Homo sapiens: one gene and its partner. The protein of the gene in region 2 purifies or fractionates together with the protein of the main gene of each other region. This does not show direct contact. Each region holds a gene or a part of one and is shown on either strand. Other genes may lie near its edges.

What was found. The genes of interacting proteins can lie anywhere in the genome.
Region 1: the proteins of ZNRF2 (region 2) and ANKRD44 purify together in Homo sapiens (affinity purification with mass spectrometry; one large-scale study listed by BioGRID and IntAct). This does not show direct contact.

What each region holds. Positions count from the first base shown.
Region 1 is NC_000002.12:197,118,652-197,122,302, forward strand, and holds part of ANKRD44 (serine/threonine-protein phosphatase 6 regulatory ankyrin repeat subunit B), read right to left. Parts: intron 2,894-3,651; coding exon 2,681-2,893; intron 1-2,680. UniProt on the Homo sapiens protein: Putative regulatory subunit of protein phosphatase 6 (PP6) that may be involved in the recognition of phosphoprotein substrates.
Region 2 is NC_000007.14:30,350,481-30,354,131, reverse strand, and holds part of ZNRF2 (E3 ubiquitin-protein ligase ZNRF2), read right to left. Parts: intron 3,372-3,651; exon of another isoform or gene 3,295-3,371; intron 1-3,294. UniProt on the Homo sapiens protein: E3 ubiquitin-protein ligase that plays a role in the establishment and maintenance of neuronal transmission and plasticity. Ubiquitinates the Na(+)/K(+) ATPase alpha-1 subunit/ATP1A1 and thereby influences its endocytosis and/or degradation.

The DNA.
Region 1 (3,651 bases), on a different chromosome or scaffold from region 2:
AAAGAAAGAAAGAAAGAAAGAAAGAAAAACCTAAATCATAATTTTGTCTCTCTGCAGTGATAATTGTTGCTAGCATATTGGTACATACTCCAGAGAATTTTCTCTGTTTTTGCATCATCTACACACATAACCATAACATTTTAGCATTAAAAAAGAGATCATATTTCTTTATTGCATTTCAATGTTTTCATTGATAATACTAGGTGTTATTAGCCATTTTGATATTTGCCGTTCTTTAACACAAATGTACGTTTTTGTATTAGTTTGTATTTTTCTAATTACCAGTAATACTAGTTTTTCACAGGCTTAATGTATTTTTTATTCTCTCTTGTGATCTGACTTTTGCTCCATGTTTTCTAGTAATGATCACTTTTTCTTATTGATTTGTATGAGCTCTTTTTATATCAAGCATATTAACTATTTGCTTATCATGTATATTGAAGAAAATTTTCCCTAAGTTGCTCTTATTTTAATTTCATGTTAGAGGTTTTATTGTTGTTGTTTTGTTTTATAAATGTTTAAGACTTTTTTGTAGTCATATATATGATTATTTTCCTTTTTTTTTCCTGCCTTTGGTGTTCTGTGACCGGATTACTGTTTTTAATGCTCAGGTCTGATCATATGACCCCTAGAATGATTCGTGGCCTGCAGAGCCTGGAGAGGCCCAAGCTCCTTGGGCTCAAAATCATCCAGTAGATGAGTCCTCTTCCTTGGTCAAATCACATTTCAGCTCATTTCTGGCTCCTTTCTGTCATACAATTAAAAATAAAAAAGCTTTTTACAGACAGGATCTCACTAGGTTGCTCAGGCTGATCTTAAACTCCTGGGCTCAAGGAATCCTACACCTCAGGCTCCCAAGGAGCTGGGATTACAGGCCGAGCCACCACACTTGGCATGTTCATAAAATTATACTCTATTTGATACAATCAATTGCTATTCTGAAAATTTGTCACATCTTTCACCACTATTAGAAATTGTGAAAAAATATAAGATTTTAATAGTGAATAGAGAAGGTTATTAAAATAGACTGATGTGATATTCTTGAAATTACACCTTAGAAATCATTTTTCAAAACCAGAGACAGAATACACTGGGACCTTGCTTCAGGATCCCTGTGTGCTGGGAAGAAGGGAAGCCTGGGTTGAATAAAAGGTCTCCTAGCACAGCTAAGGATATTCTGCTACAATCTAAATGCATTCAAGTGATGTCGCCCAAATTATGAATGCTGCGTGATAAGCTCCCCTTGGTTAGCTGTCACATGGCAAGCTGACAAGTTACCTAGAGGTTTTCCTATCCAGAATTCCCACCCCTCTTTGCTCATGCTGTTCTATCTGGAACACTCTCTCTCAAATTATCTCTATCCCTCCTCAACTCAACTACATTAATCTTCCAAGTCTCCCCTCAAAATCGATCTCCATTTTTTATTCCCAAGCAAAAAACAAGTCAACAATTGCTTCTTAGAGTTTGCAATGCTTTATGACTCTTCTCATCATATCTTCTCTTGCTCATGATTACCTGAGTGCATGCTACCTCCCTACTACACTGTAAGTTCCTTAAAGGCAGAGACTGAATCTCATCTTAGAGCACTCTTTCAGTACCAAACAGAGGGCACTGGGTAGTCCTTAGTAAATTTGCTGAATAAAGGAATGATTGTGATGACCAGCTCAGTGCTACATCACTGAAGCCACTATCTGGGGTTTGCTTTAAGAAGGTATTGGCTGGGCACAGTGGCTCACACCTGTAATCCCAGCACTTTGGGAGGCTGAGGCAGGTGGATCACTTGAGGCCAAGAGTTTGAGACCAGCCTGGCCAACATGGTGAAACACCATCTCTACTAATAATACAAAAAATTAGCTGGGCATGGTGGTGCATGTCTGTAATCCCAGCTACTGGGGAGGCTGAGGCAGGAGAATCGCTTGAACCTGGGAGGCAGAGGTTGCAGTAAGCTGAGATCACGCCATTGCATTCCAGCCTGGGTGACAAGAGCAAAACTCCATCTCAAAAAAAAAAAGAAAGAAAAGAAAGAAGGTATCTGAGAAGCTCTAAACCCACACTGGAGTTGGAAACAGGCCTACAATCATTATTAGGCCTTCCTTTGAATTCTTAGCAACACTGCCCTATCAGCTCAACATTCACCTCAGTATTAGCTTCTGGGCAAGTCAATATCCTAGAGATCCAGTATTTGTCCTGACACATTCACTAAGCTAACAAGAACACACGGCTGGAGCCTTGGTACCTTTCAGCTGATACCACCACTCCTGAAGAAAAATAACACAACTTTTTTTTTTTTGTTTTTGAGACGGAGTCTTGCTCTGTTGCCCAGGTTAGAGTGCAGTTGCACAATCTCAGCTCACTGCAACCTCTGTCTCCCGGGTTTAAGCAATTCTCTGCCTCAGCCTCCCGAGTAGCTGAGATTGCAGGCACCCGCCACCACGCCTGGCTAATTTTTGCATTTTTAGTAGAGATGGTGTTTCACCATCTTCGTCAGGCTGGTCTTGAACTCCTAACCTCATGATCTACCTGCCTCAGCCTCCAGACAACTTTTCTTATAGCCTCCAAATCCAGGACAAGGCTGTGAGGTTCCAACTCACTAAAACATGGCATAATTTGCAGCAGTTGATTTTGCTCAAACAGAAGCTCAATGCAAAGGCATTCAACACAGAGACTAAGAGTGTCATACCTGAATGTTAACATCTGCCCCGTTGTTTACTAACAATTCAAGACACAAAGCACCATGAGTGGAGGCAGCAGCAAAATGCAAAGGGGTGAACCCATTATTGTTTGGCTGGTTCACGTTAGCACCGTAGTCAATCAACTCGTTAACCACAGCATCCTGTCCATTGTAGCAGGCGATGTGAAGCGCTGTATTTCCATAGACATTGATTTCATCAATCTGCAAAAGAGTCCAACACAGGGTGATTAAAGTCATTAGAGCCAGTTTACTCCATTTTCCACAAAAAGCATAACGGCTGTGGCTAGAGAAAGGAAATAGCCATCCGCCAATATAATTGTTCAGAGCTTACTCTTGCCCCAGTGTGGTCATCTTGGGAATGCTTGTCACCCCATGGTAAAGATCAGCAAAAAGTCAATGTGGCAAAAAATGAACTGGAGACAGAGAAGTTTCATCCTGGGGAGAGGTATTTTTCAGCTAACAAAGGAATAAAAGGTGAAGGGCAAAGCTGCTTTCAAAACACCAAAAGAGAAGTAAATCAGAGGAGAATGAAAAGAGTCCCACACTCTAGGATTGGGGCACAGAAAACCTCAAGAAATGGTGGGGGATGGCAGAGGAAGTGGCTGCGGAGATGGCAGGGGAGGTGGCTGTGGAGTCTAAACATGGAAGGCGGGTCAGAATCCACTCTCTGTTTTGCTCTGGAGTCCGACACCTCACCAGGTTGCATTTTAGTAGCAGAGCAGTGGTGCCGTCAGGAGGTGTGTTTCGTCCACGGCTCCCTATTGCTTTCTGAGACCTGCCCTGGATGCCTGGTTTCCTCATTATGGTTTTCCATAATGATGCAACTTGGTTTTCCTTTCTTGGGGGACAGGATGTTCCAGCCTCACCACTGCTCCTGTTCTACCAGCAGAAAGAGAAGGCAGCAGTCTGCCTTTTCCAGCTCAAGAGTAGACATTGCTGCTGTTTGTCTCTGCCATTTA
Region 2 (3,651 bases):
CTCCTACCCCATCCTGCACCCCATGCCTTTTCTCATTCTCTTGATCTCCATTTTTCTCTTATTGTTCTAGTATCTTTCAATAGGAGATTCAGATAGGGAACAAGTTTAACGTGAAGCATCTAACTGATAGCAGTGAGAACAAAAAGAAAAAGGATCTAAAGGAGACACTAAAAAAACCTGGTAAAGGTCTATAATTCCAAGTAATATGGTATATTCTCACCACTTACGTATTTTTTCATCACAAAGGTATACCATTCTTATCAAAGAATTATGTGAGTGTAAGTTTCACAACCACCTTCAAAAAGTTAACCACCACTTTTTATCAAACCTAAAACATCAATGGTCATAATATGCACCATTAGCTTTATATACCACCAAGTAAAAAAAAAATGCTTCCACCAAACTATGATGCAACATCGATTTTAGACGCATCTCATTTTCAGAGCTCTTCAAAGTCTTTGAGATGAGAATATTTTAAAAGGTCTACATTTTATCCTATTTATAAGAAAATTTATAGTACAACAAAGACAAATCCAACCTGCCTATAATTAACAGAATGATACATATTTTAAGAACACAATGCTATTTTAAAATTGACAGGGGCGAGACTTATCCCTCAGATGCTTTGCAGGTACTAAGTTTAAACAATCTTTTTAGTGTAATTCAGAATGCTGGGTTAAAGTCATTTAAAAAATAAGCTCCCTTAAACCCTAGCAATAAAAAATAATCAGAACTGTACTTCAGAATTGTATTTTCTGTTCAAGAAAAGTATACCTGTATACAAAAACATCCCGAACACACTGATTTCAGTGCAGAAACAGCCTAATATCCACTAAAAATAGCTTCTAGTGACATAATCTCTGCTCAGAAAATTAAAAGCTAATGTTAACATATTGTAGCCACTGATCAGTTGCATTTTGATAAGCAACTCTGAGTTAGAAGATAGTTCACTCTGACTTCAAAACCTCATGATTACAGCTTCACATAGCAAATGCTTAATTTTCACATTTTAAAGTCTTGTTTCCACTAGAATGTGTCTTTGTATGTTTAAAAATATTTTCAGTTTTGAAAATTCACTGTGGAATGTGATTAATTTTTGCCTACCTGGGGGTTTGCTAGAGTAGTCCCCTCTCTCACCCCTATAATGACACTTTCATTCAGAGGAAAGTTTTGAGCTTTTGCCTTCACATAGGTAACTACATTTCACAATTGTGAAAGACTTGTTAGTAATGTGATACATTCATACTTAAAAACAGGACCTGGAAATACCACTAAACCCAGGATACTAAAGCATCTTCAAGACAGTTGGGAAAAGATTAAAAATCTAAAGATCAGTTGAAAACATTTATGAAGATAACACCCACAGGGATTAAGGAGTCAACACTTCAGAACTGGAATATCTTGGGGTAGACTACTAACTAGCCAAAACTCATTAAAGAAGCAGAGAAGGGAACACTCACAGATTTAACTACCATAGTTGGCTAGTCTGGATTCCTCCTCCACAAGCTATGATCAATGGAGACACAAGAGATTGTCAACAGGGAACTAAACATGTTGCTTTTTAAAAAGTGTTATTGCTCATACCTCAACATCTAGAGTAGTAAAAGTTAAATGAGCGCATTGCTTATCAGTTTAATGCCTTGTCTTATTCATGTAATCTATGCATTAATTTAGATGTACTGATTACAGGAAAAGAAAAGTTAAAAGACTGGAAAAGAGCAATGATTACGATTTTTAACCAGAAGTGGGCACTAGAATCACTTCAATGGGTGCATTTTCAACATATACCAAAAAATTATATGTACCTGAGTCCCACCCCTGGAGATTCTGAAATATATGCCTGCCTCACAAATGCGACTGCTATCAAAGAATAGCTTGTTTAAGTAGAAAGAGCCTAAGATTTAAAGTTGAAAACTTAATATGAATTTCCATTCTCACGAACAAAAATGTTCGTCAACCTCAAGTTTCCTTTTATTCTTCTGTTAAAAGTACTCAAAATATTAGAGATGAAATTTTAAAGAATTGTGTGAAAAAACTTTATAAGTTATAAAAAAACACTATACAAAATGTTAGTTATTATCAGATAGTACTTCATGCACCTCTCCAAAAACAAAGTCAGTCATCTTCCTATTTCTTTTTCTCTCCATCTTGGTATTCCACTTGTTTCAAACCTGAACAATGTCATCAAATAACTCCATGAAGACCAGGAACTTAGGCGCCTATTATAACTGCCAGGCTGGGAACAACTCCAAGCATATGACACTGTCTAATTAATTTATGTTTTGGCTTCATTCTATATTTTAAAAGGATTAAAAACGTGTACTTTTTAATGTGCTTTTGACATATTTAAGTCACATGTTAATCCTATGAAGTAACTATTGTTACCTTCATTTTACACATAAGGAAACTGAGGCTCAAAGAAGTAAAGTAACTTACCAGAAGTTACTAAACTACTAAGTCCTGAGGTCAGGATTCAAATTTAGACTAAGTCCTTGGCATTTTTCCTACTTCATGAATTCTGCTACAAGAAACAATTTCACTTTAAAGCAACGTAAATACCAAAGCAACTGGACTGTTTTAAACAACTAAGTTTTAAATACTCAAGCTACATATTTAGAGGAAGTACTCTCAAGACTGGTCACACGCTTTATCTTCTGGATAAAATAACTGAAACGACCTTACAATTAACTGCTTACACAATTTAAAACAGCTCTGTCCAATAGAACTATGGACGGTGATGAAAAAACATCTTTTATCTGTGCTGTCCACAATGGTAACCACTAGCCACATATGGCCTGAAAACAGCACTTGAAATGTGGCCTGTGCAACTGAGAAACTGAATTTTTAATTTAATTTTGGTAAAATATGAAACCTTAAAATATATAATAGGTAATGAATATACATTTATAAACTAGTTACAAACTTCTGTTACTTGATATTTCACTTACAGCTTCTCAAGCTCTTAAAATTTGCATTGTCCAAAGAAATTACTTAAAATTCAAGCAGCCAAATATGCAAAATTAAAATACTTAGCAGGTCCAAGCACATATCCATATAGTTATTGCAGATCAAGACGACATGGAAAAAAAAAAAAGCAAACAGCCAAAATTCTTTAAAAAAAAAAACAAAAAACCAAACCAACAAATAAGACTGAATTTGTTAGGCAGCCAAGGAAACTTCATGCGAAAATTTCATAATCATCACAACTTTATTTTCAGATCAAGCATCCAAACAGGTATATGATCTTTTCAGCAAAATACAACGCCAAGCGCTATTATGGATCAGGCATTTTACCTGAAGACTTATTTTTTGTTCTTGAACCCTCAATGATAGCAGTAGAAAACAAAAGCAGCTGAAATGTGAAATAATCCCTAGAAAAATCAAGAATTAAAAAAATTTACAACATTAGTGAAAAGCAATTACTCAAAGAACAAAAAGTTGGGGCTCACAAGTTTTAATAATAAATACTTTCAGATATTAAGTTATCTCTTATACGTATAAAAGAACGTAACATTAACTAATTCTTTCAATTACAGATCCATGAGCTATTACTGTACTCAAATATAAATAGGCTTAGAAATGATATTTAACAAAGGGAAGTTGCCATTTTCACTGTAAGATAAATATATCAGTAAAAATATGGGAATAACG